4 separate regions of the Homo sapiens genome follow, and regions 2, 3 and 4 are each reported to be linked to region 1. The links are microRNA targets in miRTarBase. Many come from high-throughput screens and were not tested one by one. Region 1 holds a microRNA gene; each other region holds the end of a gene's coding sequence.

Region 1 (7,121 bases):
TAGCTGGGACCATAAGGGCTTACCACCACACCCAACTAAAACACCTGAAATATTGAAATATTGATACTCAATCCACATTTTCCCACTAAATTCAGCCTGAGGGCAGCTGGTGGCTTTGGAGAGGGAGCAAAGGCTTAGCCTTGCCCCAAACCCCACAGGGTAGCAATGTGAAAAGAGGCATAGAGGGGCAGGGGCTGGAGCTCCATCTCCAGCCACAGCTCCCTCCCGTCCCCTCTGTCCCACATCTCACCATTTGATGTCATCGTTGTGTCCCAGGTAGTGTCGCTGCCTCTGCTCCTCCACGCTGTATAGCACGGCTACGGAGGCCACAAAGTACACTATCTCCCCGGTGGGCAGCAAATAAAGGTTGGCCCGGCAGTCTCGGCCACGGTAGCCATAGCTGGAGCCACCCAGGGGCTGGTTAAGGAATGTGTTTTGTTGTTGTTGTTTGTTTGTTTTGTTTTTATTTATTTATTTATTTTTAATTTTTTTATTTATTTATTTTTTTGAGATGGAGTCTCACTCTGTCGCCCAGGCTGGAGTGCAGTGGCGTGATCTCAGCTCACTGCAAGCTCCGCCTCCTGGGTTCATGCCATTCTCCTGCCTCAGCCTCCTGAGTAGCTGGGACTACAGGCGCCCGCCACCATGCCCGGCTTATTTTTTGTATTTTTAGTAGAGACGGGGTATCACCATGTTAGCCAGGATGGTCTCGATCTCCTGACCTTGTGATCCACCCGCCTCGCCCTCCCAAAGTGCTGGGAGCCACGGCACCCAGCCTATTTATTTTTTCTTTTTTTTGAGACGCAGTCTCGCTCTGTCTCCAGGCAGCAGTGCAGTGGTGCAATCTCAGCTCACTGCAACCTCCGACTCCCTGGTTCAAACGATTCCCCTGCCTCAGCCTCCTGAGTATCTGGGATTACAGACACACGCCACCACACCCAGCTAATTTTTGTATTTTTAATAGAGATGGGATTTCACCATGTTGGCCAGGATGGTCTCAATCTCCTGACCTCATGATCCGCCCGCCTCAGCCTCCCAAAGTGCTGGGATTACAGGCGTGAGCCACCACGCGCGGCCTGTTTTGTTTTTTTAAGACAGAGTCTGTCACCCAGGCTGGAGTGCAGTGGCATGATCCCAGCTCACTGCAACCTCCGCCTCCTGGGTTCAAGCCATTTTCCTGTCTCAGCCTCCCAAGTAGCTGGGACTACAGGCAGATGCCATCATGCCAGGCTAATTTTTGTATTTTTAGTAGAGATGGGGTTTCACCATATTGGTCAGGGTGGTCTCCAACTCCTGACCTCAGGTGATCCACCCACCTTGGTCTCCCAAAGTGCTGGGATTAGAGGTTTGAGCCGCTGGCGCCCAGCCGAGGAATGTATTTTGCATCACACACACTGGCTGAGGACCAGACTCAACAAGGTCATTGGAATGAGGTTTTTCTGTTTCCACTCTCACCCCTGTAGTGGGCTGATGGTCCCCTCCCACTCCAAAAAAAAATGAATGTCTGTTTCCTTTTTTTTTTTTTTTTTTTTTTTTTTGAGATGGAGTTTCGCTCTTGTTGCCCAGGCTGGAGTGCAATGGTGTGATCTCAGCTCACGGCAACCTCCACCTCCCGGGTTCAAGGGATTCTTCTGCCTCAGCCTCCTGAGTAGCTGGGATTATAGGCATGCGCCACCATGCCTGGCTAATTTTGTATTTTTAGTAGAGAAAGGGTTTCTCCATGTTGGTCACGCTGGTCTTGAACTCCCAACCTCAGGTGATCTGCCCACCTCGGCCTCCCAAAGTGCTGGGATTATAGGCATGAGCCACCGCGCCCGGGCTATGTCTGTTTCTTAATCCCCACAACTTGCAAATGTGACCTTACAAGGAAAATGGGTCTTTGCAGATATAATTATAGATCTCAAGATGAGATCATCCTGGATTATCAGAGTAGCCCCTAAATCCGATCACAAGTGTCCTTATAAATGACAGAAGAGGCAGCCTCAATCTCCTGGGCTTAAGTGATCCTCCTGCCTCCGCTTCCCAAATAGCTGAGACTACAGGCATGCACCACCATGCCCAGCAAATTTTTTGTATATTTTTGGTAAAGATGCAGTCTCGCCATGCTGCCCAGGCTGGTCTCAAATTCCTGGGCTAAAGCAGTCCACTTGTCTTGGCCTCCTAAAGTGCTGGGATTACAGGCATGAGCCAATGCACCCAGCCTGCCTGGCTAATTAAAAAGAAATTTTCTGTAGAGATGGGATCTCGCTTTGTTGCCCAAGCTGATAGTTATCTGGTTTATTTGTTAACTGCTCATATTCCCCAATAAGACTGTGAGTTCCATGGTGGCTGAGATTGGGCTGTTTTTTTTGTTTGTTTGTTTTGTTTTTTTCATTTCTGTATCTCCTCCTCCAGGAAGCCCTCCATGACTCCAGGCTGGGTCAGCCCTGTCCCTGTGGATTCCCCATCCCAGTCTTGCACACTCTGGGTTGTCACTCTCAATGAGTCTGTTCCCATGCTAGACTGTATGCCCCAGGAGGGCAGGCAGATGCTGTCATGGTCAGCACTGGGTCCCCAGCCCTATGTCTCAGATGTTCAGAAAATATCTTGAATGGGCCAAGCACGGTGGCTCACGCCTGTAATCTCAGCACTTTGGGAGGCCGAGGCAGGTGGATCACTTGAGGTCAGGAGTCCAAGACCAGCCTGGCCAACATGGCGAAACCCTGTCTCTACTAAAAAACACACAAAAAAATTAGCCAGGCATGGTGGCCCATGCCACCCAGCTACTGTAGTGGCCGAGGCAGAAGAATGGCTTGAACCCAGGAGGTGGAGGTTGCAGTGAGCCAAGATCGTGCCACTGCACTCTAGCCTGGGTGTCTCAAAAACAAGAAAATATCTGAATGATTGTCAATATACATATATCCTGACCCCATGAAACTGCTCTGACCTGCAGTCACTGCAAAGGGGAGCAATCTGAGGTCCTCACTTTTGCAGTCTCAGCCACCTCTCATCAGATGCTTATCAAGCCCTACTGGCAGGACATTTGGGACAGATTCCAGGGGATATTTCCAGCTGCCTCGAGAAGGCTCTGGGCACCCAGAAGGCCAGGCCATTTCACCAACCACCCTGGCTCCTCCAAAGAGGAAACCAAGGCCCAGAGAGAAGCAGACAAGGACCGGGTTCCTGGGGTGTGGACTCCAAGCTCAATAGGATTTTAGGAAAAAGTTTGGGTCCCAGAATCAGGATTGTTGTCTCCTACCTATAACCTCAGTTTCCTTATCTGGAAAGGAGGTATAATAATTTCCAAACTGTAGGCCTCAGAGCTCTTGGAGGCCACTAGTTGTAAAAAAATAAATTCATACCTGGAATAACTTACAACAGTGTCTGTCAGATAGTAAGTGCTTGAGTTATTATTTTGGATTTTTTTTTTTTTTTTTTTTTTTTTGAGAAAGGAGTCTCGCTCTGTCGCCCAGGCTGGAGTGCAATAGCACAATCATGGCTCACTGCAACCTCGACCTCCCAGGCTCAAGTGATGCTCCCACCTCAGCCTCCAGAGTAGCTGGGAACCACAGGAGCATGCCACCATGGCTGGCTATTTTTTTTTTCTTTTTCTTTTCTTTTTTTTTTTTTTTTTTTTTTTTTTGAGACGGAGTTTCACTCTTGTGGCCCAGGCCGGAAAGCAGTGGGGCAATCTCGGCTCACTGCAGCCTCTGCCTCCTGGGTTCAAGCGATTCTCCTGTCTCAGTCTCCCGAGTAGCTAGGTTTACAGGCACATGCCACCACACTCGGCTAATTTTTGTATTTTTAGTAGAGACAGGATTTCATCATATTGGTCAGGCTGGTCTCAAACTCCTGACCTCAGGTGATCTGCCCACCTCGGCCTCCCAAAGTGCTCAGATTACAGGCATGAGCCACCGCGCCCGGCCTGCTATTTTATTTCCTGTAAAGACGAGGTCTTGCTATGTTGCTCAGGCTGGTTTCAAACTCCTGGGTTCAAGTGATCCACCCACCTCGGCCTCCCAATGTGCTGAGTTAGTGTTTTATCAGTCCCTGTGCATGGGGCACATACTATGAGCTCAGTACCTTTACACATTATTTCACAGGTCTATGGACCTGAGATCATAAAATTCATTTTTCAGAGTCAAGACGACTTTTCCAGGGTCACACGGCCAGGTACGGGCTGGACTGGGGTTTGAACCCATCTCTGTCAGACTCCAGAGCCCGGGCTTCCAGCCATTCCCAACTCTTTTTGCTCAAATGCACCAATCCCACTCTGGCCACATAGCCCTTGAACGTGCTGTGCTTGTTTTGTGTGTTGCCCAGGCAGGTCTCAAACTCTTGGCCTCAAACGATCCTCCCAAAGTGCTGAGATTACAGGCCTGAGCTGCCTTGACCGCCTTTCTATTTCCTCCTGGGGGGATGGGAGCACCAAGGAGATTCCAGCAAAAGGATACACCCACTCCAGCTTGAGCCGGCAAGAAGGCAGCTCCGAGCGTGTGTCCAGGCTGTAGGTGGGTGCCAGCTCGTCTGGGATCATCATGGGCACAGGGCGGCCCCTCAGGAACATTTTCACGGAGCCATCCTCTGCCAGGACACCCCCAGAGGTCAGGCACTGACACCAGCCCCATCCCTATTCCCTCTCCTCTTCCAGCTTTATTTATTTATTTTTTTAAAGGCAGGGAAACTGAGGCCAGAGAGGCAAAGACCCAGTAGCCAAGACTCCTGACCTCTGGCTCCAGCCTGTCACCCCAACAAGCAAGCTTCCACCGAGCCCTTCCCCATCTCCCCACTCACCCACACTGAAGATAACTTCTTTGGTTTTGCTGTCAGGAAAGGACAAAGAAAAAAAAAGGGTCTTAGTATTCAGTTCAGAAAAGGGGAGAAACCATTCCTCCACCCCCACCGCTCCCCGGAGGTCTCCGATGAAAACGGGGCCGAGTAAGGGGCAGAGCGCTGCCTCTCTGCAGGCCGTGTGCTTTGCTCGGTTGATCTTGCAGAGCCTAAGACACAGGCCCAGAGAGGCAGTGATCGCCAAAGATCACACAGCACGAAGTGGCAGGGACGCGATCCTGGAAGAAGGGAGTCACCAAGGACCCTTCCCTCCTAATCAGCAAGGTGCTCCCCAGCGCCCCCCACCCGCAGTTCCCCCAGCACACCAAACGTCAAGCAGAGGGAGAAACGGGGAGAGTTTAAGGGAAGGGGCGTGTCCCCACGCCGGTCTGGGTCCCAGGGGTTGGGTGAAACCTGAGATCTAAGCCCCGGGAGCGCGGAGAGGAGATGGGGGGTGGTCTGCGAAAGGGTCTCACCCAGCTCCAAAGCTACTCATGGCGGCGGGTGGCGGAGCTTCGGGGCCGGGGGTGGAGCCGGGACCGGCTCTGCCGCTTCCGGCCCTGGGAGGCGCCCGGGCCGCCGCGCCCCTGCCCCGCCCTCCACAGCCACCCCTGGAGCCGGAGGGTCCCACCGGGTCACACATCCCGGGCTGTGGACTCCCGATCCCAGGTTCTTTCGGGGTGGGTGGGGGAGAGTGGTTGAGAACATGGACTCGGGAGCGCGCCTGCTTGAGTTAAAACCCCAGTTCTGCTAATTCCTAGCAGTGTACACAGGTCGTCCAACCTCTGCCTCGGTTTCCTCATTTAAAAAATGGGGATAATAAGAGTACCCGGCCGGGCGCGGTGGCTCATGCCTGTAATCCCAGCACTTTGGGAGGCCGAGGCGGGCAGATCACCTGAGGTCAGGAGTTCAAGACCAGCCTGGCCAACGTGGTGAAACCCCGTCTCTACTAAAAATACAAAACTTAGCCTGGCGTGGTGGCTGGCGCCTGTAATCCCAGCTACTTGGGAGGCTGAGGCAGGAAAATCATTCGAACTCGGGAGGCAGAGGTTACAGTGAGCTGAGATTGTGTCATTGCACTCCAGCCTGGGCAACGAGAACAAGACTCCGTCTCAAAATAAATAAATAAATAAGAGTACTCACACCTCCCGGGGGTAGTTGCGAGGGTGAAATTGGTTAATTATTGGGAAGTGCCTGGAGTATACACAACGCTGTATTTGTGTTTGCTATGTTTGAGCAGAGTTGAAATGTGCAGCTTTTGACCTTGGTCTTGCCCTTGCGTGGCCTCCTAGCGCTGACCACGCCCACTGCACCATAACTCCAGCCTTAGGGTGATTTTTGTTTTGTTTTGTTTTTGATACAGGGTGTGGCTCTGTCGACCAAACTGGAGTGCAATGGCGTGATCATGGCTCACTGAAACCTCGAATTTCCTAGGCTTAAGTGAGCCTCCTGCCGCAGCCTCCCAAGTAGCTGGGTCTACAAGCGAAGGCCAGCACGCCCGGCTATTTTCTTTCTCTCTCTTTTTTTTTTTGTTTTTTGTTTTTTGTTTTTTGTTTGTTTGTTTAACGGAGTCTTGCTCTGTCAGCAGGCTGGAGTGCAGTGGCGCGATCTCAGCTCACTGCAACCTCCGCCTCCCGGGTTGAAGTGATTCTCCTGCCTCAGCCTCCCGAGTAGCTGGGACTACAGGCACGCGCCACCACGCCCATTTTTGTATTATTAATAGACAGGGGGTTTCACCATGTTGGCCAGGATGGTCTCGATCTCTTGACCTTGTGATCCACCCGCCTAGGCCTCCCGAAGTGCTGGGATTACAGGCGTGAGCCACCGCGCCAGGCCTAATTTATTTTCATTTTTAGTAAAGACGAGGGCTCGCTATTTTGCCCAGCCTGGTCTCGAACTCCTGAGCTCAAGCGATGATTCCCGCCTCCGCCTCCCAAACTGCTAGAATTATATAGCCTTAGTTTTTGACTCTGTCCAGATCTTCAGTATGGCCCCGCCTCTGGAGTTGACCACGCCTGTCATTCTGAGCCTCCCTTCTAACCCTGTCCCTGAGTTGACTCAGTTGCTTGAGAATTGACTGCTACCTCCCGCCAACGCTCCTTCTCCGGCCCGCCAGGCATTCTGATTACGTCCATTTTCACGTATTCCTTATGTGAATACCTTCGAGGCCTCCAAGTTGGCTGCACCTCTTGGCATTTGACCACGCCCCTACGGCCCCGCCCAACCTTTAAGCCACGCCCTTTTCAACCTGGCAGTGCCCCCCGATTTTGATGTCAAAGCTTCTGGAATCTGGAATGCCTCCACCTGGTCTC
Region 2 (7,121 bases), not on the chromosome of region 1:
CCATCCGCCACCTTTCCACTGTGTTGCTAATCTCATTGGTGCAGAGTGATGTCTAATTGTTGCTTTAGCTTGTGTTTTCCTGATGACTAACTTTGAATATCTCTTCAGTGGTTTGGTGGAGTGTTGGGTCTGCCCCTATACATTGCCTTCCATTCCCTGTGCCCATTTTTTTCTGCTGGAGTTGTCTTTTCACTGGTGATTTATAGGAGCTCCTTGTACATTCCTGACATTTAATCCTTTGTTTGGAATACCTTCCCCCAGCTCCCACACCTACAGGTAGGCCTTTTGCCAACCACTAAAGCAAATTAAGCATAATAAGAAATGAAGAGGCCGGGTGCGGTGGCTCACGCCTGTAATCCCAGCACTTTGGGAGGCCAAGGCGGGCGGATCACGAGGTCAGGAGATCAAGACCACGGTGAAACCCCATCTCTACTAAAAAATACAAAACATTAGGCAGGCACGGTGGCGGGTGCCTGTAGTCCCAGCTACTCAGGAGGCTGAGGCAGGAGAATGGCGTGAACCCGGGAGGCGGAGCTTGCAGTGAGCCCAGATCATGCCACTGCACTCCAGCCTGGGCAACAGAGCGAGACTCTGTCTCAAAAAAAAAAAAAAAAAAAGAAATGAAGAGAAGGGGGGCAAAGGAAGTAAAATAAAATGGGAAGTCAACTGTTGAGTTTTAAACTAATACACTAAAGTAGAAGATGAAAATCACAGAAAAGGCCAGACACAGTGGCTCACACCTGTAATCCCAGCACTTTGGGAGGCCGAGGTAGGTGGATCACTAGAGCTCAGGAGTTCGAGACCAGCCTGTGCAACATTAAGAAACCCCGTCTTTACTAGCTACCGGGGAGGCTGAGATGGGAGGATCACTTGAGCCCAGGAGGCCGAGGCAGCAGTGAGCCCATATTGCACCACTGCACTCCAGCCTGGGTGACAGAGCGAGACTCTGTATCAAAACAAAACAAAAAGAAACAAAAGAAGATCACAGAAGAAAATATTTATAGAACCACGACAACAAATGTCCAAAATAATAGTTAGACAAACAAGCAGAGTACAAAAAAGACCAAGACGTTAACATAAATGTCGAGGAAAAAATACTTTTGAAGAGCATTAAAAATAAACACGACTGCATTCTTTTTAAAACTTCGCAGTAAAAAGGAAAATAATGCAGAGGTCAGAGAGGTGGAGATTAAAGGGGTGAGGCATACCCATGAGGAAAAACAAAAAAACAACAGCAAAGGGAAAACACAGGGACAGCAGACACCAAGCAAACTGAAGACCGCACTTGAAAACAGAACAAGCCTAAAATGCGGGGAAGAAAAGCAACCAGAGAACGAGGCTAAAATAAACAGCCTGAGGGTGAGCTGGTAAGGCCTTATCAGCCAGCTCCTGCTCTCCTGGGGTCCAGGGCGATGTAGAGGCTGATGGCAGTGGTGGGGACGCAGAAAGGAACTCAGGCGACCTTTGGGTCCTATATGGGTCCGCCCATCAGGCTGAGGCCAGCAAAGAACCTGGCTAGGACGTTCATACTTGGAGCCACTGATGAGGCCATGGTCAAGAAGCCATGGGCAGTAGCCTGTGCTGGTCGTTCACCTGGCTATGGAGATCCTGGGGTATTAAATCCTGTGCCTGCACCACCCCTCCCTTGTGAACCTCCCAGCCTCCCTAGCCTGCTCATTGCCTTCAGGAGAACCCACAAGTGGGAGCGGTGGCCATGTGTGCCAGAGGGCCTGGGGGAACGCTGCGCTGGGAATCTCTTTGGCCGCACTTAAGCAGGCAAGGAGACGCCCTGTTCCAGCAAGTCCAATGCCACCCAAGAGTGCAAAAGGGAACACTGCCAGGATTCACCAGAGACGTCAACGTGTCATCCTTGCTTGCTGGAGGGAGCAATGACTGTGAGGACCCAGGGACAAGCCCTCTCCAGACCGTCTGCCACGCAAATTCCACCTGGTCATCCACAGTAGCCAGCTGTTTGTGCAATTATTTGATTGGCTATTTCCAGTTCCAATGACTCAGAAAAAAAGAAAAAAAAAAACAGATTAAACTGACAAGAAATCCAGAGTTCCATCATCCTGTTTCATCACAAATTAGAAGGCTGAGGAGAAAATTCAGATGAATCATTGGAGAGTGGAAAATACCTGATCTTATCTTGAGGTGAAAAAGGGATATGGGGCTGAGACTTGCCAACTCGAATTCTTCCAGGGGATAGAAATGTCCTCCAGCGGCGCCAAAGTTCACTTGAAACCCAGGTGGGTGCTTGGCAGTTCAGATCCACTTCCCAGAATGATGATCTTGGTGCTGATGCTGCCAGATGCCCTGCCCGGCCCACTCAGCCACAACCCAGTAGTTCCCAGACTTGAGGATTACATCAGTTTTTGTTTCATCATTTTGAATTGGTTTTTAATTGGGTGATAGATGAACGACTGTTGACATTTTATTTTTCCAAAGAAAACATTAAAAAATAAAACCACCATCTACTATCACCATTGTTTCCTAAAAGCATCTTAGCACCAAGAAAAGACTAAAGGATGGCCGGGCAAGGTGGCTCATGCCTGTAATCCCAGCACTTTGGGAGGCCAAAGCAGGCAGATCACTTGAGGTCAGGAGTTTGAGACCAGCCTGGCCAACACAATGAAACCCTGTCTCCACTGAAAATACAAAAATTAGCTGGGTGTGGTGGCAGGTGCCTGTAATCCCAGCTACTTGGGAGACTGAGGCAGGAGAATCGCTTGAACCCGGGAAGCGGAGGTTGCAGTGAGCCGAGATCATGCCACTGCACTCTAGCCTGGGTGACAGAGCAAGACTCTGACTCAAAAAATAAAAATAAAAAATAAAAAACACTAAAGGATGGTCTTTTATAGAGAATAAACTTAAGCTTTATAAAATGCTCATTACTACACATTCCTCATTTTTGCAAGACTCAGGAAAATTCATAGTGAGCTGACATTGATGCCTGCTGCCACAACCTGCCTGGGGAAGAATCCCAACCCCACAGATCTGTGTTCTGGGGAAACACGTAAGGGGAATTGGGCTGGGGTCTAAGCACACTTGTGAAGAAACAATTTATCAGCTTTCACTCAGACCTGACGCTCTGATCTCGAAGCTCTGATCTCCCCGCTGGGGGCTATCTGTCCATTGGGCTGCATGTCTTCACATCTTCAACTCCTGTCCCCAGGATTCCCAAGCCCACCACTTCATCAGAACCACCCGAGATGGGGCTTTTACAACTTACAGCTTCCCAGGCCTCACTGCCAGACATCCAGTCTTGTGGCTCCAGGACGGAGTCTTGCGGTTTTCCAGATTTAGGCCCCTTGGCCTGCGCCTCCCTCCCCCAGCCACCCAACCCTCTGTCTGGTCAGCGGCAGACATTCTTGCTCAGGCTAGGAGAAATGTCAGCCACACTGTCAGCGCCGGGCCCTGGAAAACAGAGCTGAGGGCAGGGCTGGGGTGCTGGGGACAACCCAGCACTGAATGGCAGGGCCCAGCCCATGAAGCTGGAGCAGCACTGGCAGTAGGCTGTGCTGACACCAGGACAAAACAGTGGAGATGGGAGCATGGAGCTGGGGCACTAGGCAGCTCTCCAAGTTCATGGCCCACATGAAATGCTCAGCAATGTGGGGATGGCCAGGGAAGAACATGAGAGCGGTCTGTCCTTTCACCAGGAAAGCATCTTGTCGTGGGGAAGTCTCTGTGGATACAGCCCTGGCCTTAACAACCCCTACTGGACCTCTGCCATCTCCTGCCACCCTGTCCTTCTCGTGCGCCCAGCTCCATCCTGGTCCACTCATCTGGTTACTTGTTGTCAAGTGTCTCCGCCTCATCCCTGTGCCATGCACATGGCCTGAGGGCTCAACATTTGCTGGCTGGACTGAGCAGCGCACTGGCTGAACCAGGGGCTCCCTGTGACGACAATGTCCAACCCCCGGGGAAGCCAGCTATGGCAGAAAACTGGCAGGGTCTCTGCAAGCCACCAACACAGAAAGCTGCCATCTCTGGGCCTACAGGGCACCACCGCCTCCATGCTTTCCAGCGCCAGCTTCTCTCTGCCCTCTCACTTGCTCCAAAGGGAAGACACAGCAATGCTGTGGGGAATTTTACTAGCAGTATCTGAAGACCTGTGTGGAGCCCGAGGGGACTAATTCTGTGGAAGTACTGGGGGACAGTCTGTGAGGTACTAGGCCCTGCTGTCACATCTGTGGGCTGACAATGGGAACAGGGACACAGACCTGCAACAGACAAAGTCAAAAGCTCTCATCTCTCTCGCCCAGGCCGGGCCCCACTCCCTGGTGAGTTGTGTGGTCCCAGCCTTAACCAACCCTACTGTAAAGGGGCCTCCCCATGGGCCCAGGATTTTGTAGTTGCTTCGGACAGCAAGGACCTGTCCCACCCATCACAGACTGTGACATAACACAGGACACAACACTGGGGGGTGTCGCCTGGGGAGGGCTGCCTTCTGAGAGGTGGAGGGACAGAGGGGAAGCATGTGCTCAGGATCAGGCGCCCAGGGGTAGAGGCAGCATGCAGGGACGGGCTTGCCTCTGGGTGCTCCCTCCAGATTGTCCGGGCTCCCAGTGGACTCTGGTCTCCAACCCGAGGGTGTGAAACCTGTACCTTTCCCCTTCCACCGCCATATAAGCTTTTTAGGATCAGCCCCAGTCCTAAAGCCAAACTTGAAAAATAATGTTTCTGACCTCTCTACAGGAAGATCCCAACTGGAAACTGGCAAGAATTAGCACCTCTTTGGGACTTCTTTTAAATGTCCCACAGTTTACTCTAATCAGGTCTTGAGGTCATTCAGTCACATCATCTTGCTTTAGGGGGCTTCCTGTGTCCCTGAGATCCCAAAGCTGCTGTATGCCACAGCATTAAGTTTCTTAGCTAATGTCAGGCCCTCACTTCGAACAATTCATTAGAACATCTTAACATACAGACACGAAAACCAGGTGTGGGAGGGAAGACATTTACTTTAGGTATAAAGGTTTACTATTATTAACAAGTTATCACTATTATTTACATGTTTATAAAATGGAAATAAAAATGACATACACGTTTGGTGCCAAAAGTGGCACATCCAAACTAATATCAGTATAAAAATAAATTTTCAAGCTATGTGTTTTTAAAATAAAGGTCATTGAAACAGTAAGGGGGAAAAAATCTGCATCTGGCATGTGTTGAAATGCAATCATCATCACAGCAAAGCAGCCCTGGGGCAACAAAACCAGTGCCTGCTGGAAGAACTGTCCCCACGCGCTCTTGCAAGAACCCAAGCAAACAAACAAAAAAACAAATACACCAGTGATGTTCCTGAGCTACAGAAGTTTAGGGCATCCAAACTGTTGTGAATTCCTGCTAAAGAGGAGGCCCTGTGGGATCTGAGCTGATGAACTCTCCTGAGTGCTCAGCTAGCGTGGCACCAGGACCTGGCACTACACTCTGAGAGGACGCTAAGCCTACCTGTGAAACACAAATCCTCTGCTAACACAAAACAGCGCACGAGTCCTCTCTGTCAATCACCAATCCCTTGCAAGTCTCCTGGCTGCAGATAAACAGGGACAAGGGCTGAGGACAGACAGAAGCCACTGGGTTTGGGAGACCCTGTGCCCATCAGACATGCCCTTTGGTGGTTTCGGCAGAGATCCCCAATGTTTCGTTCATTCGTAGAGACATGCTTGTTCACACCTGGCAGCAGACCTCATTGGTTAACACAGCTGTGGCCCCAGCAGGGAAAGCAAAGCCAGCCCAGCAAACCCTCTGTCCACCCCACATGGTGTTTTGGCCTTCAGTGGCTAACTTTCCTCCTTGTTTCCCATAGAGCTGGGCCAGGACTGCATGCCTGCTGGAAGTGGCATGCTGGGTTAGTGAGCGTGCTGAGTGAGCCAACTCCCACTCTGCCCGCTGCAGCACAGAAGGATGCCTGCCCATGCACAAAGTCCTCCAGGATCCCAGCAAGGATGCAAATGCTGTGGGCAGCGGGAAGAAAGGACTAATGAACAGGCCGCAGCCCACTTCAGAGCAACCAAACATTCCACAGGAGCTGGTGCCAGCTCACCCCACCTGGGACCAGGGGCAGCAGCATGGAGGAGAGGACGCCAGCAGTCCCTGCAGCTGTAGCTGTGGGCTCCTCTCACGGGTCCTGGACCTTGGCCCTTTTGGCTTTCAGAGACAGGTGCTGCAACAGAAGAGAAGACACTACAGTTGGGGTTGATTAGACAAAGAAACCAGACTGCAACATAATCCCCATATGAATGACCACATCAAATCTTCCATCTGGTCCACACCTTCCCAGTAAATGCTGAGCTGTTCATGAAACAGCCTGGAAGGAAAAAGCCCAAGTGGCCAATGAAGAAGCCGACCTGAATTCAGCCGCCAGCAACCCGAGGCCCAAGCCACAGCGGCTGAAGCTGGTTATACAGGGCTCTGCGGAAGCTGTCAAGGAAAGGTTTTCTTTTTGAGACACGACTCTCCCTCTGCCCCAGCCTAGAGGACAGCACCGCAGCCAGACAACTGTGCTCAGGAGACTGGGCTCAGTCTGGAAGTGATCTCAAATCTCCAAGAAGTTCCTGACAATAGTCAAGAAAAATTATCCTCTCTTTAGGACCAAGGAAGTCAATTTACCAAGCGTCTCAACACACCAGGTACCCATGCTCAAGGATGGAGATAAAGATATGGCCTCTGCCCACATGGAGGGTACAAGCTTGCTGGGAAAACAGAAAGGACACCTCCTAGTGACACTTTTTTTTTTCCCCAGAAATGTCACTTTCTACCATTATGAATAACACGAAGCACAATATTCTAATCATAGGCATCAGATAATAGGATTGGAAAATGAAGTATTTTTTACATTCTAAAGCAAAGCCAAAAGTGGCAGAAATCCTTAAATATGCCTTTGAGGCAGAGTGTGTAAATACAAGCTTTTAATGAAAGACCTCCCTCCACTCATCAACTGGGATATACCCGACAGCCCATTACTAATCATCAATAACCAAGAGATCCCTAAGCCGTGCCAACTAACACACAGTGGGAGCCTCACATGAGAATGCCCACCCTGACTGCTCCGGAGCTGGTGTGCCCACTACTTAGCACAGCCACATGGCCCCACAACATCAAGCCGCATCGCCCCC
Region 3 (7,121 bases), not on the chromosome of region 1:
AATCAAGATCCTTGAAGGAGCTGATTCATTTTAGTAAATAGGATGACCTGCACTTAGACATGAATTCTGCTTAAACTAGAATTTTACTTACCTTTATTTAAAGAAGTCACAGATATTTTTTGCCTTGCTCACTGCTGTATCCCTAGAGTTCAGAATAGTAGGCACCCAGTAAATCTGCAGAAACAATGTACAACTTTTATATCCACTAAAGGAAGATCGTTTCTTACTTAGGAAAGTGATAAGAATGAAGGATGTTATAAAATTGTTTTAAAGGTGCTATAACAAAGCCTTCATCTTACTAAGAGAACTGGGATTTACTGTTTGTGTATTCAAATTTCACCTGCATAAGCAATTACACATATAGTACCTGACAGTTTTATTATACTTTAGGGGAAGAGATGGCTAGTGACAAGGAGAATTCAAGATTGTTCAAATCTTTACAGAAGATTTTTGATACTAGCAAATGTTTCTCAAAGATAAACTAGACAAGTTCAGTATGGACAAAGAAACAAAGAAAAGCATTATAATCAGATGTCCTACGAAAGCTACAGTGATTCAACATGTGCTTTAATTTATACTGCTTAGATCCTTTGAGTTCAGATGTCTTGAGTTTTTGAGGACAGTAAAACAAGTAAAACTGGGATGAAATTAAAGCTATGTGGCAAATTAGTTTCAGTTAAATCAGGAATATCTAATACAAAGCTTACAAACTCCAAAATAGTTCAGCCAATAGAGTAACTTCCCAAATGCTGGATTTAAGCTTTCATCACAAATTTAAAAAGGTAATAATTCTTCTAGATCTCAACTCTAGGCTGTTAACAAGTAGCAACTCCTTCATATTAACTTTCTGCTCCCAACTATTTCTGAATCAGATCTTGCTGCTATTTTTTTCTTATTCTAGAAGCTACTGAGCAAGGAAAATACCTTGATTCATTCTAGATAGAAAACATTTTACTGGCCAGGCGCCATGGCTCGCCTGTAATCCTAGCACTTTGGGAGGCTGCCCCAGGAGGATTGCCTAAGCTCAGGAGTTTGAGACCAGCCTGGGCAACACGGTGAAACCCCCATCTCTACTAAAATACAAAAAATTAGCCAGGCGTGGTGGCATGCGCTTTCTAGTCGCAGCTACTTGGGAGGCTCAGGCAGAATTGCTTGAATCTGGGAGGCGGAGTTTGCAGTGAGCCAAGATCGCGCCACTGCACTCCAGCCTGGGCGACAGAGCGAGACTCTGTCTCCAAAACAAAAACAAAAACATTTTACCTAAGAAATCAAGTATCTTAAATTTTGGAGAACTGAAAAGGTTGAGAATTTCTGCCCCAGTAACAGATCGTTCTCTGACTTAAATAATTCTCAATGTTCTACCAAGTTAACAACACACATTAAGAAATCTGACTCAAGCTCTTTTTCCCATGTGACTATGTTACTTGGCTGTATCATAAACTAGGACTAAGTTCCTACAGTTCAGTCTTGCAAGGGAGAACCAATTCAGGACACTGCCATAGAAAATATTTACTCCCTGAAAAACTTCTATAGGCTTACTGTTCCTATTTGTGACTGTAGTATCCAATTTCCCAGAAATATTCAAATCAGTGAGAACAGCATCAGTCTGAGACAGACTAGTCTCCCCTCCCCACTGAAAACCCAACCACAAGAGCACAGCCTTTAGACCCACTATTTCTTTTATATCCCGAATAACTGTAAAGTGCAGTGCTTTATAACCCTCATTTAGAAAACTACTCCTTTTAGAGACTAATAAAACACAACCTAACCAAAACTACCCTGACCTTGGGAGTCAACGAAGCCCAGCATCTTCTCTGAGCAGTGATAGCCAGTCTCCTAGAGGGCCCAATGATATCCACCTCCCAGTATTCACATCCTTGTGCAGTCCCCTCCCACACTATACCAAGCTGATTCAATGGTTGGTCTGTGTGACTCATGGAATATGGCAGAAATAATGTCACCTGAGGCTACGTCATAAAAAAGTATGGTTTCTGCTCACTTTCTTATATCACCTGCTCTAGGGGAAGCCACATACCAGTTGTCCACCAGGCAACTGGTGCCCAAGGAACTGAAGCCCAAGAGCCACGTGAGCATCAGGCACTGTGTGTGATACCCACACAGTGAGGAACAGAAGCCCAAGAGCCACGTAAGCAAGACATCTTGGAAATGGCTCCTCTAGCCTTGTCAAGCTTCAAGATGGTACAGTCCTGGCTAACAGCTTGACTGCAACCTTCTGAGATCTCAAGACAGAACCACCCAGTTAAGCAGCTCCTAGATTCCTGATCCAGAACTGTGGAAGGTAATACTTGTTTGTTGTTTTAAACTACAGTAATAACTGAGACACACTAGACAAGGATCACTCATTGCTTCTTAAATGAAAAAAGCAAAAATCTAATTATAACAATTTTGACTAGAAATATTAAATACTGAATTCTGTTAAAGAAAAAATCTTAAATTCATGTTTGATAAAAAGCTTAAAAGCCAATTCCCAACTCATTGAACTACCGTACTCCTTCCTTACAAGGAAGAAAAACAAAACACCTGAATATGTTGTCTGTAGCCAATAAACATTACTAACTAGATTGCAGCCTAAAGTGTCAAGTATTTCTAATAATTACATTAAAAATACAGCAGCAAGACAGTTCCTTGGATCTTACTTTTTCCCTCTCATTGGAACTGAATTGTAGATATTGGGCACTGTACCTAGCAAGTCACAGAAGATCTGAATTAGGATGCCTTAATTACACTTGGCCTATTTTAATGATTTTAAAATTAGATCTTAAATGTGAAAGTAAATAAAAGCAGTAAGGGAAACACTACACAATGAGTATGTACGGTTGCTGGCTGCAGAATTCAACAATACAGTTTTGACATTTACAGATATCACAGATCACTACCAGAACATCACATAAGTTTATTTCAGATGTAACAGCAATGTTAAAATTGACAAGTTTAATTCTTAACTGCACCAAGTAAACTTAGCCATTTAAGTATTTTTTTAAGTTATTCCCTCCAAAAAACTGAGGGAGCTTTTCTTTTCCACCACCACACCATGGTTTCCCAATAGTTCTCTTTTTGGAGGACTTTTCAATTGATGAGTAAACTGCTTTAGATATTTCAGAACTTCATTCCCCAAATGAAAGCTAATCTGGACAAACTATATATTGCATAGATTTCTCTACAGATTCTTTGCTTTAAAACCTAAATGCAACTAACATAGTGTAATTTTAACCTATTTGCCCCACAGTAAAAACTATCTGTCCTGAAAAATATGATGGATATATCCTGTGATTTTCCAGTTAACAGAATTGTTCTACTTCAAAGATAATTATTATCATATATCAAAATAACCAGCTCAACATAGGACATTACTTCAGTCTTTACTGACTCATAGGCATATGAACTTGTGCCCAGCTTTTTACCTCTTCCACATTCTCCTCCTCCTCCATAAGTGGATGGAATTATTTAACTAAGTTTGATGTAGGACAATTAACCCTTTACAAACATTTACAATTCAGGTTAAGTCACTGACTACCGTGGAAAAAGAAACTCTATATATAATGATAGGGAGCCTACACACTCAATTCAAAATTTAATATTTTTTCCTCCTTAAATAACATGTACTTGTCATGAGGCAGCTATTAGGTTTTCAATAACCACATTTAGGGATACATTCATAGGACTGATTAGATAGTCCAGGTGAAATGGTTATAGAAATAGAGGCAGTGTCATCTCAGAAAACCATTTATATATCAAAGTCTATTTTGATATCTGGGAAGTTTACAAAAAGGCTGCTGCATTCTTCAAACTACTTATGCCTTCTGTAACTCAAGCACTCTTCTCTTGCCAAGAGCAAGCTGAAGCTTATTCATGAAGATAAAGGTGCTTAACGCTAAACTTTTCTTCTAAGCTTAGATTTGGATTGTTTAAGAAACGAATACCCCCAAAAAACCAGCAAGGTCTTTCTACATTTTTACCATCTTAAGATTAGAACCCTATAAACTCATTCATCAACTGTCTTCTTTTTCTGTATTATTCTTGGCACTCAAGATTGTTGAAGTCTACTGCACTTTGTACTTTCACATTCTCAAATAAAAACTTAAGGTTATAAAGTGTGCATAAACATTTTATAAAATAATTTTGTCATTTAACATATTTGGAAATGAGACTTTATACCGCAATTTTACATAAGAGGATAAATATGAATGAAACTTCCTTTTAAAGTCAAATGACAGAAAGCTCAAGCCCTGTGCATTATTTTAAAGTCTGAGAACATTTCTAAATAGTGGAGATGGGACTACAAAAGGAAAACATGAATATTTCAGATGTCTCCCATCTTACAAAGTTATCAATCTGTCAAAGCCACTCCGTGTGTGCCGGAAAATGATCTGGCATAAACCAGTCCTCTCAGTGGAGGAGGTCACAGTGACATTTGTATTATTAACATTTTACACTTCTATTTTTCCAAGAATAGAAGCAATATGTTTAATAATTACCCCTGCCTCAAATCCTTAAACTCAATATCACAGGCACTGAGTATAAGCAAATCTGGGATGTCCTCCAACAGATGTGCAATAGCACAGCTATGTTATTCTCAAAAATACTATTTTTTCCTATAAAATCAAATGCTCAGTGGCCACACTTTTAACAGCTGGCATTAGATGACAGTAATTGAATTTTTTGTGTCACAGCCCATCTAAGCTTCCTTTTAGGTATTTTTTAGTATGTCCAAGAGAAAACACCTGCTTCAGGTTTATTTAGGGGTAGTGACCTATAAGGACATCAACTCAATTTTTAAGGTTAGACTATTGTTGGGTTTACTGAAGAAAAAGGAACGGGAAAAAATTAAATCACAACACACCTCTTTAGGTCAGTTAAAGGCCATATCTCTAGCTGGGATATTAAAAAAAATTAATCTCACCAGCCCAAATTCTAAAAGTTAATGCCACTAGTAACAATCAACAGCAGGAAAAACAAACCTGCTAACAACCAGCCCACTCATTAGCAAAAAAGCAGTTTAACTCAAATACTTAGACCAAAGTATAACACTAAACCAAACTGCCCCACCCACCAGCAAGAAGAGAAGATATAATTACTTAAAAATCAACATAAGCTTAGTATTTCTTACAAGGATAACAATGTTCCAACTCCCGAGAGAGTGCTCAGAAGGACTAAAGGTGGAGTGAAGGCAATGTCTAGGGATTAGTATCCCAAAGTGTTTAAAAACCCAAAGTACCACAAACACACTCAACTTGTCTATGAATTAGAGAACAAGATACTGCTGCTGCTTCTTTTTGTCTTTTGAAATATACAATGTTTTGTAGGCTCTGCCCTTCAATGTGAAAGCAGGACATTAAATTTGAAATTATTTGACAATTAAATGTTTAGGACCATCTAACTTCAACTGCAAAACTAAACAGATCTACCTTGTCCTTCCTTCAAACCACCTCACAAAAATAAGAGAAAACAATTCAAACATGATTATTTTTTTAAAGTCCTTGAAAGTATTAAAACTCTCAGAGAAAAGGAAAGGAAGAAAGAAAAACAAGAACAAGGAGGGAGAAAAGCTTTAAAAGAAAAGTGTTGGGGTGGGGGAGGAATCAATGGGCCTCTCTTTTATTTGGCGACAAGCAAGTGCAAGAAAGTTCATTTGTAATTTGTTCAGTTGTCTGTCTTTTGCACATCTGCATTCTGACCAGAAGGAACTTTGAGGTTTTTCTGCAGCACATGAGCATCTGCGGGCTCTATCCTCTTATAGTAGTTCTTCTTTGTCTCAATAATCTCAAAGCCAAACTTCCTGTAGAAGTCAATTGCCGACTCATTGCTGATCTGGACATGCCTGAGATATAAGAGAGTATCAGAAAAAAAATTAAAATTAAGGTTTCATCAAGTTTTAAGCATTCTCCACAGATAGCTCCAAACATCTGTTACATTCTCTTTACAACTACCAGTAATCAACAAGGGTTAGGCATGCTTACCTAAAACCTTTTGATGACAATTTTACACTTTTAATCTAATTTTTACATTTGTAAGACAGCTGGCTGAGATTAGAAGGCTCAGTGTTTATTCTTGTAGTCAACAAAGGGAAAAGTACCACAGCTATCAAAATTTTTTCACTGTAAGAGGATAAATTATTAAAAGGCCCTATTAACACACAGAAAAAAAATGATGAAAAATAAAAAACTAGGGTCTCAAAGCTTGAAGATATATCTTCCTTCTGATTGATAAAATACATGGTATGTTTTAAAAATTAAAAACGCAAGCTTTCTCAATTACTCCCAAAATAACACTGTATAATTCAATCTCTCACATGGCCAAACTAAATTATGAACATCCATGACTGTGATCTTAGTCATAACTCTTTATCTACAGCCTCTTGAGATTCAAGTACAATCTCAGCTAGGTAATCTCTGATTTTGATTATTAAACTCTACTACAAATGATCTACTACAATGTTCAAAGCTATCAACATAGCCTTGAACAAAACACACAAGGTTTTGCATGAGAAAAGTAGTATTAATAGTCTTGAATTCTGAAGGCCTGAGTTTTAATCCTGATTTCATCCCTGTGACTTTGGTGCTCTCATCCTAATATAATAAAGCAATGTGTTCTATCTCAGGTTCCTAATCTACTATTATTAATAAAACAAAACTAAACAAAACTAACAACTACTCGAATACTTTGTAACAACTACTTCCACAGTGTTTCCAAAGGCACAATAAGTGACCAGATTTTAAAGTTTCTAGTAAAGATTTCTCCTGCCAATTAAACCCCTTTGATAAGAACATTAAATATTATTTTACTTACAGATAAATGTTGTCAAAAGTACCATCTTTTTCACAGATGTTTAAGACATGATTTAACATTTTAGTTCCTGTTAATAAAATAAATAACAAACACGTGACTTCATAAATCAACCTTTAAATTATGTATCTATCCACTTGCCATCTGAACTACTTATTGAGTCCTAAAAGAATTTATGAGGTATACACTAGATATCCTTATTTTCCAAAGTTGTGTTCTCTCTCTACAATAGCTACGTATGTTTAAAACTGTTAGCAGAAGACTAACCTTTTTAAACAAGCACTTCCGGGTAGAAGAAAAACAGAAAAAGCAGAAGG
Region 4 (7,121 bases), not on the chromosome of region 1:
ATGTGCTAGGAACCTGCAAGGCACTGAGACACGCAGAATCCTTGCAGCTTCCAATCTGGTGTAGAAGACAGATGTTAGACAAATAAATTAGATAATAAGATCATTTCAGAGAGTGGTATGTTCTGAGAGAGAATAAAATAGGGTTTGGGATGGGGGGTTGGGGGAAGGATAGCATTAGGAGATATATCTAATGTTACATGACGAGTTAATGGGTGCAGCACACCAACATGGCACATGTATACATATGTAACAAACCTGCACATTGCTCACATGTACCCTAGAACTTAAAAGTATAATAAAAAAAAAAGAAGAAAATAAAACAGGGTGGTGAACCTAGATGGTAACTGGGGAGGGAGCTAAAGTGAGGTAGAATTAGTACCCCCTAGGTACTAAGTACATTATAAGCATGAACTCACTTTATCTTGGGAACAACCCTCTGAGATAAGTTTGTCATTTCCATTTTAAAGATAAAGAAACCAAAGCGCAAAGAGATGATAAGTAATTTGTCCAAGATTTCACAAAGCTAGAAAGTCATGTAACTGGGTATCGAACCCGGGCATCTGACTGGAGACCATTCTCTTACCCAGCACTGAGGAATGAGATATATTAATTTAGCCCAACACCTAGCACAGAGTAAGTGCTACATAAATGGCCATTGTTGCTGTTGACATTACAGAGCTTCAATAGGCTGCCACGTCTTTCTGTTTTTCTCCAGGGACCAAAGCGGATGTTGGATGCTCAAGTGCAAACAGACCCAGTATCCATCGGACCAGTTGGCAAATCCAAGTAAACAAATCAGCACGGTTCCCACCAGGTTCTCCTGCCACCAAGATGTGTTCTCCTTACTCCATCTCCTCCCCAAACACGCTCCATGTATATATTCTTCTGATGGCCAGCAAATGAAATTCTGCCTAGAAATTAAGCCCGAGCTGTTGTATATTGAGGTGTATTATTTACGTCTCTGGTCCAGTCTTTTCTGGCAAATAACAGTAAAGATGGTTTAGCAGGTCACCTAGTTGGGTCAGAAGAGTCGATGATCACCAAGCAGGAAAGGGAGGGAATAGAGGAATGTGTTCGGGTTAAGTGATGAAAATGGCAGTGGTGGCCGGGCGTGGTGGCTCTCGCCTGTAATCTCAGCACTTTGGGAGGCCGAGGCAGGTGGATCACCTGAGGTCAGGAGTTCAAGACTAGCCTGGCCAACATCATGAAACCCCGTCTCTACTAAAAATACAAAAATTAGCCAGGCATGGTGGCACACACCTGTAGTCCCAGCTACTCGGGAGCCCAACGCACGAGAACCGCTTGTACCCAGGAGGTGGAGGTTGCAGTGAGCCGAAGTTGCACCATTGCACTCCACCCTGGGCGACAGAGCAAGATTCTATCAAAAAAAAAAAAAGGCAGTGGCAAGTAAGTTATAGAAGAGAAATGCTGCTAGAAGGAATTAAGCGTTGTAGTAAATGCGTGCTTATCCTCTAAGCTTGAAGAAGGGAGACGAAAATCCATTTGTTTAAATTCACATCTCAAGGAGGGAGAACCCGGGCTGTGTTGGGTGGTTGCCAATTTCCTAGAACGGAATGTGTGGGGTATAGAAAAAGGAATGAATAAGCGTTGTTTTTCAAATAGGGTCCTTGTAAGTTATTGATGAGAGGGAAAAGATTGACTGGGGAGGGCTTAAAATGATTTGGGAAAACAATTGCTTTTGAGGCTCAGTGACAACGGCAAAGATTACAACTTAAAAAAAAAAAATAAATAAAAAATAAAGGAAGTTGCACGGTTATTTTGCAACACAAGGGGGCGGCAAGGTCCCCATTTTTATCCTGTAATACTGTATCCCTAACAAAGATTTGGTCTCTGCTATCTTACATTATTAATGTTTCTCAGATGGCTGAGGGGCTCGCTTCATCTGTTCCGTCTGACACTTATCTCAAGTGTGTCTGTCATTCCTAATGTTCTCAGGATGTGCTCTGATAAAACCCTCCCCATAACCTCAGTTAATAAAAATTTACAGAAGACTTCTCAAATACCTGAGTTGTTTTTAATACCTGTACAAAGGAGTAAATAGGACCCTGAGTCTATTAAAATGTAATTCAAAGTAGCATATGATTGACTGACAGTCATGTAAACTGTATCTTTCTTTTTCTGATTTAATAAAAAATACATTTACTTCTAAAGTATCTTTTAATTTTCAACTTCAAAGCAGTCCCACTCTATATCTGAGATGACTCTAACTTCTACATTATAAAATCCATACTCTTTCTCCATTATCTTCTTTGGAAGATCATTCTCTCCCAGATCTTCCCGGATTTCCTTGTATATGGGCACACACACACACAAATGTGTGCAGTTGTATGTTTGCATGTACACACACATGCATGTATAGAATAGTGCTGTCTTAGGCCAGGTTGCTTGGAGCAGAGCCTGAGATGGGGATTTGGACGCATAGGATATACTGAGAGTGGGCTCCGAGGGAAAGGGAGTAAGAGAAAAAGAAGAGGGCAAGAAAAGAGTTGGGCAAGGGTTGGTTTCAACTGGAGCATGAATTGCACCACCCAGATAGTTTGACCTTGAGTCAAGGGAGCCAGCCTTTGAACCCTGGTAGGTGAATTCTGGGCTGCCCTGGGAGGTGGGGGGATGGGCAAGCGGCCCCCATTGAGCTGAGAAGCTGGGATGCCTAAGTAACTGGAGGATGAGTGCATTGACAGTGTCCACTACAGATACACACCTATATGTTCAGATACATATTTATACCCATATTTGCATATATATGCACATATTCATATATATAAATATATATCATGCAGGAATAGATCCATGCACTCACACAGTCATATTTACATACATGCAAATAAACACATGTAACTAACACAGATCCACACACACACATTGGCTCACACAAATCTATCTCATATGCAATTCATCACACATTGATCGGAGATAAACATTGAATATACTCTCCTGATGTGGATGGACCTCGACTCTAAGGACAAGTTTGCTGCTTAGGCAAATTACACCACGGCTTTGGCAAATAGGCATTTGGAAAATGTGTTCAGAAAAATATGGTATCACTCAAAACCCAAGCGTAAGTGAGGAGGGGATCCTGAGCTGCTGGGGCCTATTAGCTCCCAGCTTGGACAGGTCAAATTCGTGTTTCCAATAAAGACCAGAGGTCTTTTCCTTGCAGCTGGGTTAGTTTTTTCAAACCTCCTGACCATACCTCGAGATTACTCACACCTGTGCCTCACCCAGTTGAGAACTATCTCGTGCCGCTTAGTATCAGAATGCTTAACTTGGCATGAAGCAGGAAAACAGCACTTGGGGAAGCCATTGGTGGGAGGCCCATCACTGCCATCGTCAGAGCACGGGGTGATTCAAGGAAACCAGGCAGCTGCTATTCCTTTGTCTCCAAACACCGTGGGGGTTGTCTGCTGCAACCTTTGGTGAGCTCCTGAGCTGCAGTCCATTGAGGAAGGTGACAGTATCATTTGCAAGTTTCACCTCGCTGGGTACAGGGGCTTTTTGCCCAGATAAGAAATGCCCCTAGGCAGGAGGAAGAGAAACAGACTGAGTAGCCCAGGCCAGTTACTTAGCCAGTTACTAAGGCAGATGGAGCCCTCCCAAGCCCCCACTCAAACAAAACAAAACAAAATAAAACAAAAAAAAAGCCTCTTTGCTGAGAATCTCTCTGCAAAGCATGCCAACAGTTTTTATAACTGGTTTCCTATGCTCCTGGGCCAAAAAAGAGAATAGTCTTTTAATGAAATTGCTTTTTTTTAAAAAAGCAAGAAATGCCAGAGAGAAGTAAAGCGCATGACTTACTGGGAGAACTCTAAATTCAGTTATGGCTTAAGAAACAAGTTAATACTCCATTTTTGTGTTTGTGTGTGTGTGTGTGTGTTATTGTTGTTGAGATCCCATTTCCAATGCATTTACAATAAATACTAATGCCCACCCCTTATGCAGAACTAGAGTGAAAAAGAGCTGAAACTCACCAATAAACCCAAGAAAGCCTTTAGGACACAGATTCCCAGAAATGCCATCAGACAGAACAAGCAGTGGGGGAAATAAGCAAAGCAAAGGTGGCACACAGAAAAACATGATTAAAAGAGAAAGAAGAATTAAGACCTGGGGGAGGGAGCAAAAATGACTTTCTTATTATTATTATTTATTTACTTATTATTTATTTTTAGGTACACAGGGAAGTGTGTCTTCTCCCATGTCAAGAAGAAGTGGCCTTTCCAGGAATGGAGCTATTGAGCTGAAATGGCTGCCACTGCGCGTACACACACACACGCGCACACACACACACACACACACACCTCCCTTCCAGTTCCAGCTGACGGTGACTTTTTGACTGGTAACCATAAAAGAATTCATTCAAAAGGGCAGTTGTTCCCAGCAGCCAGTGAGGTCCTTCCTGCATTCGTTGTCTTGGAGAAGGAGGCACATAACAAAATAGAAACCAAAATGGGAAGGAAAAGAGAAAGAAAGTGAAATTCCTGGTCTTTGTTGTATGTATCCCCTTGCTTTTTAGATAAATTATCAGGGGTTTAAACACACACTCTCTCCCCTCCCTCCTCCCACTTCACACACACTAGATTGTTCTTGTCTGTTTGCAAACAGTCCAGAAGCACTGGGGTCTCATTAAATTAGATTCTAAGTGTCTTAAAGAATTAGATTTCAAGAAACCAAGAATCTGTGTCCTTTCCCTTCTCAGAGTGCCTGGAAGGGTGCAGATTTCTCCAATCTGAATCTGACAATGTTATTTCTTATGTCAGATAATCCCAAGTAGATCTTATACCTTAAAAAAATAAAATCAGCTACACTACCTACCTTACAGGGAAGGAAAAAGAACTAATTCCAATTATTAACTAACCCAAGATACAAACACAGGGGAAACTAGGGAATGTGCTTTGCAGCAATGTAAGATTATAGGGGTTGGTTTTAACCATCCTTTGAATGTCCCTCTTTAAGCCTTTTTAAAGGGCAATTTTGCACGGTGAGTAGAATTAGGCTTCTCCGTGGTCAAGATTTTGTTCACTCTATCAGTGCAAATTAAGTGGCACCGGCCCACTGGAAATTATAGTCTCCATTAGGAAGAAAAGAAATTACTTACCGAGCAGCAAATTCTCTAAATTTGTAATTCAGATCTTTAGTGCAGAATGCCGGTCAGGATCCAGCCCTTTGCATAAATTGGTTTTCTGGGGAGTTTAACCCCTTAGCCTCTGTTGCCCTTTTCTTGAATGGCATTCACGCAACCCTCTCCATCTCCTGGCCCTTTAACTGGCCCCGGCAGAAGTTGCAGTCCACAATTTCACAGAAGTAAGGATAATACATTATCACACATTACCGTTTATAAAGTGCTCTGGGTACAATCTGTAATTTAAAGCTGTATTTCCCTCACTGAACTTAAGTGCTTCCTTTGTTACATTTCATTACCGGGGGACTGGCATGCACCTGTATAGATTTTTTTTTTTTTTTTCATTTTTTGTTTTGTTTTGTTTTTCCAAATAAGCACTTCTTGACAAAATGGCCCCCAGCTGCACTTCTGCTAATGACAGCCATGGAAGGGCTGGTTCCTTACGTGATCTACTCTCTCAGAAGCTTGCTTTTGTCAAAATGCAGCCACGTGGGGGAGCTGCAGGACCTGGGGTTTTACAATGCCTAGCCCTTTTTCCCTGATTGCCTAACCGGGAAACTGGGCCAAAGCAGCCTGAGAGTGTATTTGTTGATTAACTTCTAGAAAGCAGTCAAGTTTAATTAGGAGAACTAGAACGAGAAAGCTGAACTGGGCAAGTCAGTTGCCTTCTATGATTCTCAGTCCTCCAAATGAAGATAAGGTTGGTTGGTTTGTGTTTCCATCCTTATCTGCTCTATCTTGGAAGAAGCTCAAGGAAGATTGTGTGATTGCAAAACGTTTCAGTTGGTGTCATTGCAATGCATTTAAGTAATCCTTACTGGCCCATCCTGCTCCACAAAGCAGCCTTACCTCTCATCTTCTCCACTCCCAACTAAAGAGCAAGTGATTTAAACTCTGAGTGTCCTCCCTCAACAATGGGCTAATAATAGAGCCTACTCGTGGAGTTGCTGCCAGCATGCAGTGAGATGGTGCATACCAAACATTTAGTGCAGTGGCTGGCACATTGTAAGCACTTAGGAAAGGCAAGCTATTCTATCATGGGGAACTTTTAGCACCAAGTAACAGAAAACCCCTACTTGAATTGGCAGATAATCGTAACAATAAGGGTATTTATCATTTCATATAATAGGTGTTGTATAACATCTTTGGCTTTGATTCTCTGAGACTCTCTTCCAGCTAACAACGATAATGAGGAAATGTATCGTTTCATATAACTGGTGTTAAGTCTCATAGCCTGGCTCTGGTTCTCTGACACTCCATTCTGCCATGTTCCATGGGTTGACTTCATCCTAAAACTGTGCTGAATGATGGATGCAGTTCCAGGCAAGGGGATTATGGGAATACCATAATCAGTTTCAATGAATCATTTTGGTGAAATCATGTTGAGAAGGCAATACAATGATACAGTAGACAGTAAAGCCATTATTGGTATCAGTGGCTTTAAGGCTAACCATTCCCCAAACTAACTGTGTCCCTTCAATTCACACCCATGGGATTTGTGTAATGACGGCCCCCACCTTCCAAAGCAGTGCCACTAGAATGTGAACTTATCAAGATCTGAACCTTCTTGTCTTGCTCATTCATTGTTCTATTGTCAGTGTCTAGCACAATGCCTGGACATGGTAGATACTCAACAAATATTGGTTGAATGGATAAATTGCTAAACAAATATCCTGTGGCCACACCCATTGTGGATTGCCTTATCCTCTAGTGTGAATTTGTTTTAGCTCTGAATGTCTGATCACCCTAACCAGACATCTACCCTTCCCAGGTAACCAGCCCAGTGGTTCTAAAAGTACAGTCCCAGGACCAGCAGCCTCAGCACCACCTGAGAACATGTTAGGAATGCAAACTCTCAAGCCCCACTCCATACCCGCAGAATCAAAAACTCTTGGGGTGGGACCCAGTAACCTGTGTTTTAGCAGCCTCTCAGGAGGTTCCAATGAAGGAGAAAATTTGAAAACCACTGGTCCAGGTAGAGCTA

Evidence for each region. Region 1 holds the annotated microRNA hsa-miR-330-3p (GCAAAGCACACGGCCUGCAGAGA, at 4,938-4,960, opposite strand). A microRNA usually pairs through its seed, bases 2 to 8, with sites in the 3' UTR of a target mRNA and lowers its output. Matches are read on the target gene's strand: a 7mer-m8 pairs with bases 2 to 8, a 7mer-A1 pairs with bases 2 to 7 and ends in A, and an 8mer does both.
Region 2: the mRNA of DHX35 is a reported target of hsa-miR-330-3p. Seed matches in the 3' UTR shown: 7mer-m8 at 5,195-5,201.
Region 3: the mRNA of NAA50 is a reported target of hsa-miR-330-3p. Seed matches in the 3' UTR shown: 7mer-A1 at 4,357-4,363.
Region 4: miRTarBase lists BCAS1 as a target of hsa-miR-330-3p. The part of its 3' UTR that is shown has no 7-base or 8-base seed match.

The regions. Positions count from the first base shown.
Region 1 is chr19:45,634,072-45,641,192 of GRCh38, forward strand. It overlaps MIR330 (microRNA 330), which reads right to left and starts at 5,016; the gene lies at 4,923-5,016. It overlaps EML2 (EMAP like 2), which reads right to left and starts at 5,326. Exons shown (of 19, transcript NM_012155.4): 1 at 5,286-5,326; 2 at 4,774-4,802; 3 at 4,434-4,563; 4 at 251-400. The coding sequence starts at 5,305. RefSeq lists enhancers at 4,152-5,003, 4,240-4,534, 5,004-5,855 and silencers at 4,240-4,534, 5,231-5,510, 5,531-5,620.
Region 2 is chr20:39,037,547-39,044,667 of GRCh38, reverse strand. It overlaps DHX35 (DEAH-box helicase 35), which reads right to left. Exons shown (of 22, transcript NM_021931.4): 22 at 4,947-6,169. The coding sequence ends at 6,125. Among named protein-coding and RNA genes, the nearest start is that of DHX35, 79 kb to the right of the region's middle. RefSeq lists a silencer at 1,856-2,056.
Region 3 is chr3:113,716,099-113,723,219 of GRCh38, forward strand. It overlaps NAA50 (N-alpha-acetyltransferase 50, NatE catalytic subunit), which reads right to left. Exons shown (of 5, transcript NM_025146.4): 4 at 6,808-6,874; 5 at 360-5,839. The coding sequence ends at 5,662. Among named protein-coding and RNA genes, the nearest start is that of USF3, 23 kb to the left of the region's middle.
Region 4 is chr20:53,938,591-53,945,711 of GRCh38, reverse strand. BCAS1 (brain enriched myelin associated protein 1) reads left to right here. Exons shown (of 13, transcript NM_001366298.2): 13 at 716-2,171. The coding sequence ends at 790. BCAS1-AS1 (BCAS1 antisense RNA 1) reads right to left here. Exons shown (of 5, transcript NR_199019.1): 3 at 5,114-5,280; 4 at 4,317-4,427; 5 at 2,131-3,537. Among named protein-coding and RNA genes, the nearest start is that of BCAS1-AS1, 27 kb to the right of the region's middle. RefSeq lists a silencer at 6,648-6,942.